Linked DNA regions of Homo sapiens. The protein of the gene in region 1 purifies or fractionates together with the protein of each later gene. This does not show direct contact. Each region holds a gene or a part of one and is shown on either strand. Other genes may lie near its edges.

What was found. Proteins that work in one complex are often made in the same cells at the same time.
Region 2: the proteins of CA2 (region 1) and NEK10 purify together in Homo sapiens (co-immunoprecipitation; one large-scale study listed by IntAct). This does not show direct contact.

The regions. Positions count from the first base shown.
Region 1 is NC_000008.11:85,467,007-85,470,506, reverse strand, and holds part of CA2 (carbonic anhydrase 2), read right to left. Parts: intron 1-3,500. UniProt on the Homo sapiens protein: Catalyzes the reversible hydration of carbon dioxide. Can also hydrate cyanamide to urea. Stimulates the chloride-bicarbonate exchange activity of SLC26A6. Essential for bone resorption and osteoclast differentiation.
Region 2 is NC_000003.12:27,110,884-27,114,383, forward strand, and holds part of NEK10 (serine/threonine-protein kinase Nek10), read right to left. Parts: intron 3,416-3,500; coding exon of another isoform or gene 3,397-3,415; exon of another isoform or gene 3,343-3,396; intron 438-3,342; coding exon 389-437; 3' UTR 1-388. UniProt on the Homo sapiens protein: Plays a role in the cellular response to UV irradiation. Mediates G2/M cell cycle arrest, MEK autoactivation and ERK1/2-signaling pathway activation in response to UV irradiation.

The DNA.
Region 1 (3,500 bases):
CAGACTAAAGACCGTAATGAATGTCAACAGTTTCTCCTAAGTCCAAAATATAAATAAACTAGTCCCAGTAATCTTTAGTTTAAAAATAAAATTTAAATGATTTCCTACTAATAAAGCAAAAGATTAATTCTACAGAAAACATGTCATTTTCGGTACCATCTTTTCTATAAATAACCTGAAAAATTTTAAATCATGCATTACTGTTTTGCCTGTTGGCAGCAGCCAATAATCCTAGGGCTACGTGCCAATATAGACAAATCTGGGGGGAAAAAATACACGTATTCCATTTGTTTTAAAGCAATAAGATGTTTAGCTGTCACTTTCGCTAGAGTAAACACAGTTGAAATTCAACAGAAGTCGTGGTTTAAACTATGTGGCAATTATATAGGAGTAAAAAAAGAAGCTGTTTTGATGTGAATATAGTAACTACAGTGTTTAGAATATGTTGGTCCATTTTCTAGATATTTAAGGTTCGGCTGACACCATTACTGCGTGCATGACAAGCCCTTTCATTTGTTGTTATGCTTTCTTTTAACTTAGGACTGCTGTGAAAGAAAACTTTTAGAGCTTCAAAAGCAAGTCCCTGAAAGTCAAGCAGGATCCATGTATGAAGATCCATTACGTCATACAGACAATGGGTCACTTAAAAAGAGCACAGGTAAACTCATCCAGCTTCCTTTACTCTTTTCTTGAAATAACAAACAGATTTAAAAAATTCCAATTTCTGAAAAACAGAAATGATGTAAGACTTGGATAAGAGTTGGCCCAATAATTCTGGCATTGACTTTCAATATTTGTCCCTAACTTTGCAATAAAGCAGGAGAGTATTAAACTCATTAATAAAAGTTAATAAGTTAGCAGGAGTTAATAATTTGACTACTATTATTTTCTCCCAGATAAGGCCATTAATAAAACATCTCAAGCAGGGTGAGTTATTTTTTAATAAGTTTTTTAAGAACCTAAAGGGATTAGCAATTTTTCATTAACTTAAGGTGAATTTATGGTGGCTTATTTTCAAAGGAATTTAGAAGATTGATGAGAGCTCTAACCCAAGTTTCTAGTTAAATCCTATTAACTCCGTAGTTTAAAAAATTCTCTCAAGCTTAAATCAGCAATAAAGTCAACCCGCTCAGTTCCTGATACCCAAGTTCTTAAGTTTGGATATAAGAGAACATTTAAAGCATATTGGAAAACCTCAATCTATGAGAAGTTCTAGAAGGCTGAAATCTCATTGAGGCAAAGAAGACAGGTAAATGAACTGCATTTAAATGCAGGAAATAAGAGGTATAGGAAATCTAAAAATGTTACCACCACAAAAATAACTCCTAATAAAAAGAGATGTTAAACTGCCGATTTTTTAAAATTAAGTGACTAAAATAAATAACTTTTTGACTTGTGTACAGAAAAAAATGCCAGCTTTTAAAAAACATGGTATGTATAAACTAAATGTCAAATAAGGTTATCCTTCAAATATTTTTATTCAAAATTCTATTTTTAAGTGATTGCTACTTAGTCCCTCCAGCAAACTAGCAAGGAGACGACTTAGCAAGTTATTTAAACTCTTCAGCTTCTGTTTCTTCATGTTTATTAAGGTGAGTTTAACTAGAGTATCTCTATTCTTTGTTTTGGCTTTGAGAGCCTAGGATTGTTTTATTTAAAAAAAAAAAAAAGAAAGAAAGTCTAAAGGGAGTTTTTCCACATGGTTTTGTGTGTGTGTGTGTGTGGTTTTTTGTTTGTTTGTTTGTTTTGAGATGGAGTCTCGTTCTGTCACCAGGCTGGAGTGCAGTGGTGCGGTCTCGGCTCACTGCGACCTCCGCCTCCCGGGATCCAGCGATTCTCCTGCCTCAGTCTCCTGAGTAGCTGGGATTACAGGCACATGCCACAACACCTAGCTCATTTTTTGCATTTTTAGTACAGACAGTGTTTCACCCTGTTGGCCAGGCTGGTCTTGAACTTCTGACCTCAAGTGATCCGCCCACCTCAGTCTTCCAAAGTGCTGGGACTACAGGCGTGAGCCACCGTGCCTGTCCCCCACATGGTATGATTTTTAAAAATTTATTCTGTAGATGTCTTTTCTCTTAATATTGACATTTTAATATATTCTGCATTCTTGTTTAACCAAAGTAACTGAAAATGTGGAAAAGAGAGGCAAAATTACAAAGGAATCTTTCATATGCAAAGGAGGGCAAGTCCTTTCTGACCTTGCTTTTAGTATACCTTCTTGCCTTTCTGGAGCACATGCTGTGCTCTCTTAAGTCTCCTGGTATTTCCTATCTCCCTTTGCCTGGACTCTCGTCCAAGACATCAAAATCCTTCAAGCCTCCACATAAGCCTTATTTACCCTGGAAAGTCTTTCCTGTCTTATCAGTTAAACTGCCAAGCCTCCTTCACGTTTCCATAGTTCCTTGGAGTACTTCCTTTCTGCACTTATCAAAGTGGCAGTCAGGGTCTACTATTTCTATGTCTTTCTACTTTAGATATTTCCAGCATGGGCTCCGGGGAACAGGAGAGGGACCAGGCCTCCACCCTGCTTTCATGATGCTTAGCTTCCCATGCATTTAAGTGGTGTTAATAATGACTTTTTTGTAGAACTAGGTGGATAATACATGTGTCTCTAAAGGCATGGGTGGGAGCTCCTACCGAAACCCTGTGGTTTTCATCTGTTTCACAATCTAAACATGGCCAACTTCTTTAAAAATGTATGCATTGCTCTCCAGAAGAAATAGCTGTGAAAAATGTAGCTAGATCTAATTAGTTACTGCTTATAGAGAAATCTGTCAAAGTTTAACAGATTCATGGTAAAATATGTAACTATATAATAACTTCATACATAAAATAAGTACATATTCAGTATGATAAACAGTATGCTTCAGAAAATATAAAAATAAAAATTTAAAATACATCAAATGATGGGAACTAATCTTAAAGCTGTTAAAGAAAAAGTTTATTCAGAAATCTTATCGCAGGTGCAACATCTACAGCAATGGTCTAACAGAGGTGGTCGAAGGGTTCAAGTTGTGACAACAACAGAGGCCATTTATTGAGCAACTTCTATGCGCCAGGCACTGGGCTAGGGGCTTTACATATACTGTCCCATTTCATCCTTCCACTGTGGCAGACACTATTGTTACTCCAACTTTACAGTTAAAAACAATTAAAACCTAGACAGTATTACTCCCAAAGTCTCTGAGCTAGTTGCCGGCAGCTCTAGAACTCAAATCCAGGTCTCTCTGACCCCAGTCTATGCTGATAGCCACCAGACCATGTGTTCAAATCCACTTTCCAGTAATACATATTACTAGAATAATTTATTTCACTATCCATTTTTTAAGGACTATTAGGAACCTCATCTGCTTTCATTTGTTGGAGATTTGTTTCTTCAGTGCTCCAAAAAAGACTTAAACTATCCAATTTCTATGTAGCATCCAATGAGATACATAATTTGGCAGACATTACATCCATTGAAAACAATGACATCATTGTGGCTCTTTAAAAAAGTA
Region 2 (3,500 bases), on another chromosome or scaffold:
CAATTCTGAGTATCAAATGTGCCTTTGAAAAATATGACAAGTTTTTTTTAATGTTAAGGAAAATTCTGTAAGAGAGTTTTTTTGTTGTTGTTTTTGGGTTTTCCCCCCACCCTCCAAAAGATGAATTTTGCAGCATTTTCTCCCAGCAGCACACTGGTAGCTCTGACATCCTGTATATAATGTGTTCTGGCAATGAAGCCCTCAAGTACCGCAGCTGTCATATACTCCAGCACAGGACCCCCAGAAAGAAGTCCTGCAGGCCCCATGGCATCTTGGTCTTTTCCACACCCTCTAGCAGCACCCAATCCTTGGGCATCTTGCAATAGCGGCTGAAGTCCAGAACTTGAACTTCACTGAGAAAATCAAGTCCACTCAAAATGCAGCATTTTCATCTTTTGGTTGGGTGATTCTTGGTCCCCCATGGATAGGAATGATACCTATAAGATTCAGAAGTGGAAAGAATTCTCTATAGTTACAAATATTTTAGTTCATACATTCAATTTCAAAAACTGGGGCTCAGGCATATAAGTAAATAAATCACAGTAAATAAAAAGACGATTATTTTTGTTAGGATGGGGACATTTTTAAAAAGCTGCCTTTGGCTGAAGTCTGGTGCTAACAAGGCCTTTCTCAAATTATGAACTCAATAGGAACTGATAACACTTTGTAGTAGAAAAACAAATATTCATTCAAAATAGCTTGTATACTTGAATACCTGTGTAGGTTAAAATAACTAATTTACACGCTTATCAGTCAATTGGGGAAATAAAACAATTCAAGTTGATTCAATGTAGATTTGTTATCTTGTATACTGTTATTTCTCAACACATTTTATTATTAAAAATAAAATATTAATGTAATACATAAGTATATTCATAAAGATTATATGCTCATTATCTGTTTATTCATGACTCAAATGATTTTATCCTCACAAACAACAATGATAAAATTAAGGCATATTAAGTTGCATCCTTCTGGTAAGCAAGCTAAATGCTTATGTATATAAAACGTAATTTATCATACAACCATGCAAATGATCAAAAATAGAGCCTGCTTTGGGAAGAGCTATGAGGCTGGCCAAGCCTTTTTGACCTTCTTTAACTTTCTTTACACAGCTTTCTTCCTTCCAACTCAGTCCTAGCTCCCTTTTTCCCAGAAGCCCAGAAATGAGAAATACCCAACCTTGGTCAGAGGTCCTTGCTGCTCTTTCTGTTCCTGTTACCATTTTCTTTTCCTAATGCAGCATTTTATGCCTGAGACATTCTTCCTAACTGTCCAAGCAGTCTCCTCATGATTTAAACAGTTCCAGAAATCTTCCTCAAAGATAGCTAACAGATAGATAATGGCTTTATCCTGAGACTTTCAGTCTGAAAATGGCACCTCTCTATTCTCTTCCTTAACTAAATATAAACCCTATAATTTAAACCAAAAATGTACCTTATCTTGAATTAATCCTTTAGTGACTGGCTGGCTAGATGATGTGTGTACTATTCAAACTGATAGTCTTAAATTGTAAACTTGAATAACACCGAAATTATATATGTAACTTTCTCAGCACGGTGCTTAATTCATTTAAGAACAAATTTTGCAATGACGATGATGACAATGATGACCATGTCAATGAGAACAACAGAGATCTGGGTAGACCCTGGTGAAGGAGTGAAAACGGTGTTCCTCATTTCCAACCACATAGCTAAAACAGCTTTCCTCAATTGTATTCCATGTAAAGAGTGAGGAAAACACTGAGGTCAACAAACAAGGTCAACAGATTTCTTTCTTATAGTACATCTCAGAGTCTTTAATATAGTAATAGGTGTCAACATTCTCCAAATATAAAAAATTGTACATTCTGAGTTTCCCAAATATATGTGGCCATGAAACTTTATTTTTCAGAGACTATCTATTGACATCTTTGATAATATTGCCCATTCTATGAAACCTATTGGGGAAAAATGCAGTCTACTAATTCTAAATACTGATTCTAAATACCTCTACATATGCTGTGACATTTAGCACCCTCCATCCTTTGTGGAAAAAAGCATGACAGTACCAGCTAATCTGATTTGTACTTGGAGTTATGTGTTATTCACAGTTTGTGGATTAGTAGGTGCTTCTAATTGAAGCCTGACTTATTTCTTGGAAATTATTTTGGAATACTAGTAAACAAAGAGTGGCTTTAGGCACAAACAAGGGTTATTTTTACAAACAAATTCTGGAGAGTTTTTCTCCCAAGATATGTTCTATCATTGCTATTAGAAGCCAAAAGGGGGTCGGGTGTGGTGGATCATGCCTGTAATCCCAGCACTTTGGGAGGCCAAGGCAGGTGGATCACCTGAGGCCAGGTCAAGATCAGCCTGGCCAACATGAAGAAACCCCGTTTCTACTAAAAATACAAAAATTAGCCAGGTGTGGTGGTGGGCGCCTATAATCCCAGCAACTCGGGAGGCTGAGGCAGGAGAATCGCTTGAACCCAGGAGGTGGAGTTTGTAGTGAGCCAAGATCGCACCATTGCACTTCAGCCTGGCCTGAGCAACATAACGAGATTCCATCTCAAAAAAAAAAAAAAAAAAAAAAAGAAGCCAAAAAGGGAATACCATGGATATATGGATTTTTAAATGTGATTCATTTTAATTTGGAGCACTTTAAGAAAATTTAATGCAATACCCAACTTATATTGCTTAAACTTGACTGTTTCATCATACCTTCATAATAGATTCACAATTACAAATATAACTGAATAATTTTTTGCCTTTGTTATAAGGCATCTTATTATCTGTTTATCATAATAAGAAAATTTGCAATGTCTTTTAATAAAGCCATATGTCTTTGGAACTAGATCGGTTTAAAACCTAATGAAAGTAGAATTGAAAAAGAATAATGATAAATTCCAAAATAAGACAAATATTTTTTAATAAAGGGAAAATAAAAGTTCTTGTAAGAGCTTCCTTAAGTTCCTTGCACACTTAGTTTTTCTTGATATTTAAATGATTTTCTGCAAAAAATATGAAGACATTCCTTGCCCATGATCCCAAGTCTCTGAGAAAATGCAGATAAAATGACAAGAGTCATCTTTTCCCCAGTACAAGCCAAGGGCACTTGAAATAATGAGGCTCACAGTTAAAAACAGAAACATTCATACTATCCATGATAGTATGCTTATGTATGTAAAATGTAATTTATCATACAACCATGCAAATGATCAAAAATAGAGCCTGCTTTGGGAAGAGCTACGAGGCTGGCCAAGCCTTTATGACCTTCTTTAACTTTCTTTACACAGCTTTCTTCCTTCCAACTCAGTCCTAGCTCCCTTTTTCCCGGAAGCCCAGAAATGAGAAATATCCAAACTTGGTCAGAGGTCCTTGCTGCTCTTTCTGTTCCTGTTACCATTTTCTTTTCCTAATGCATATACTCAGCCCTTGAATAGAAAATGAAAATTCAAAAATCTCTCCAGGGATGGTGGGAGGAGAGTAGTTGTGGAGATGGTAATTTCTATTGACGGT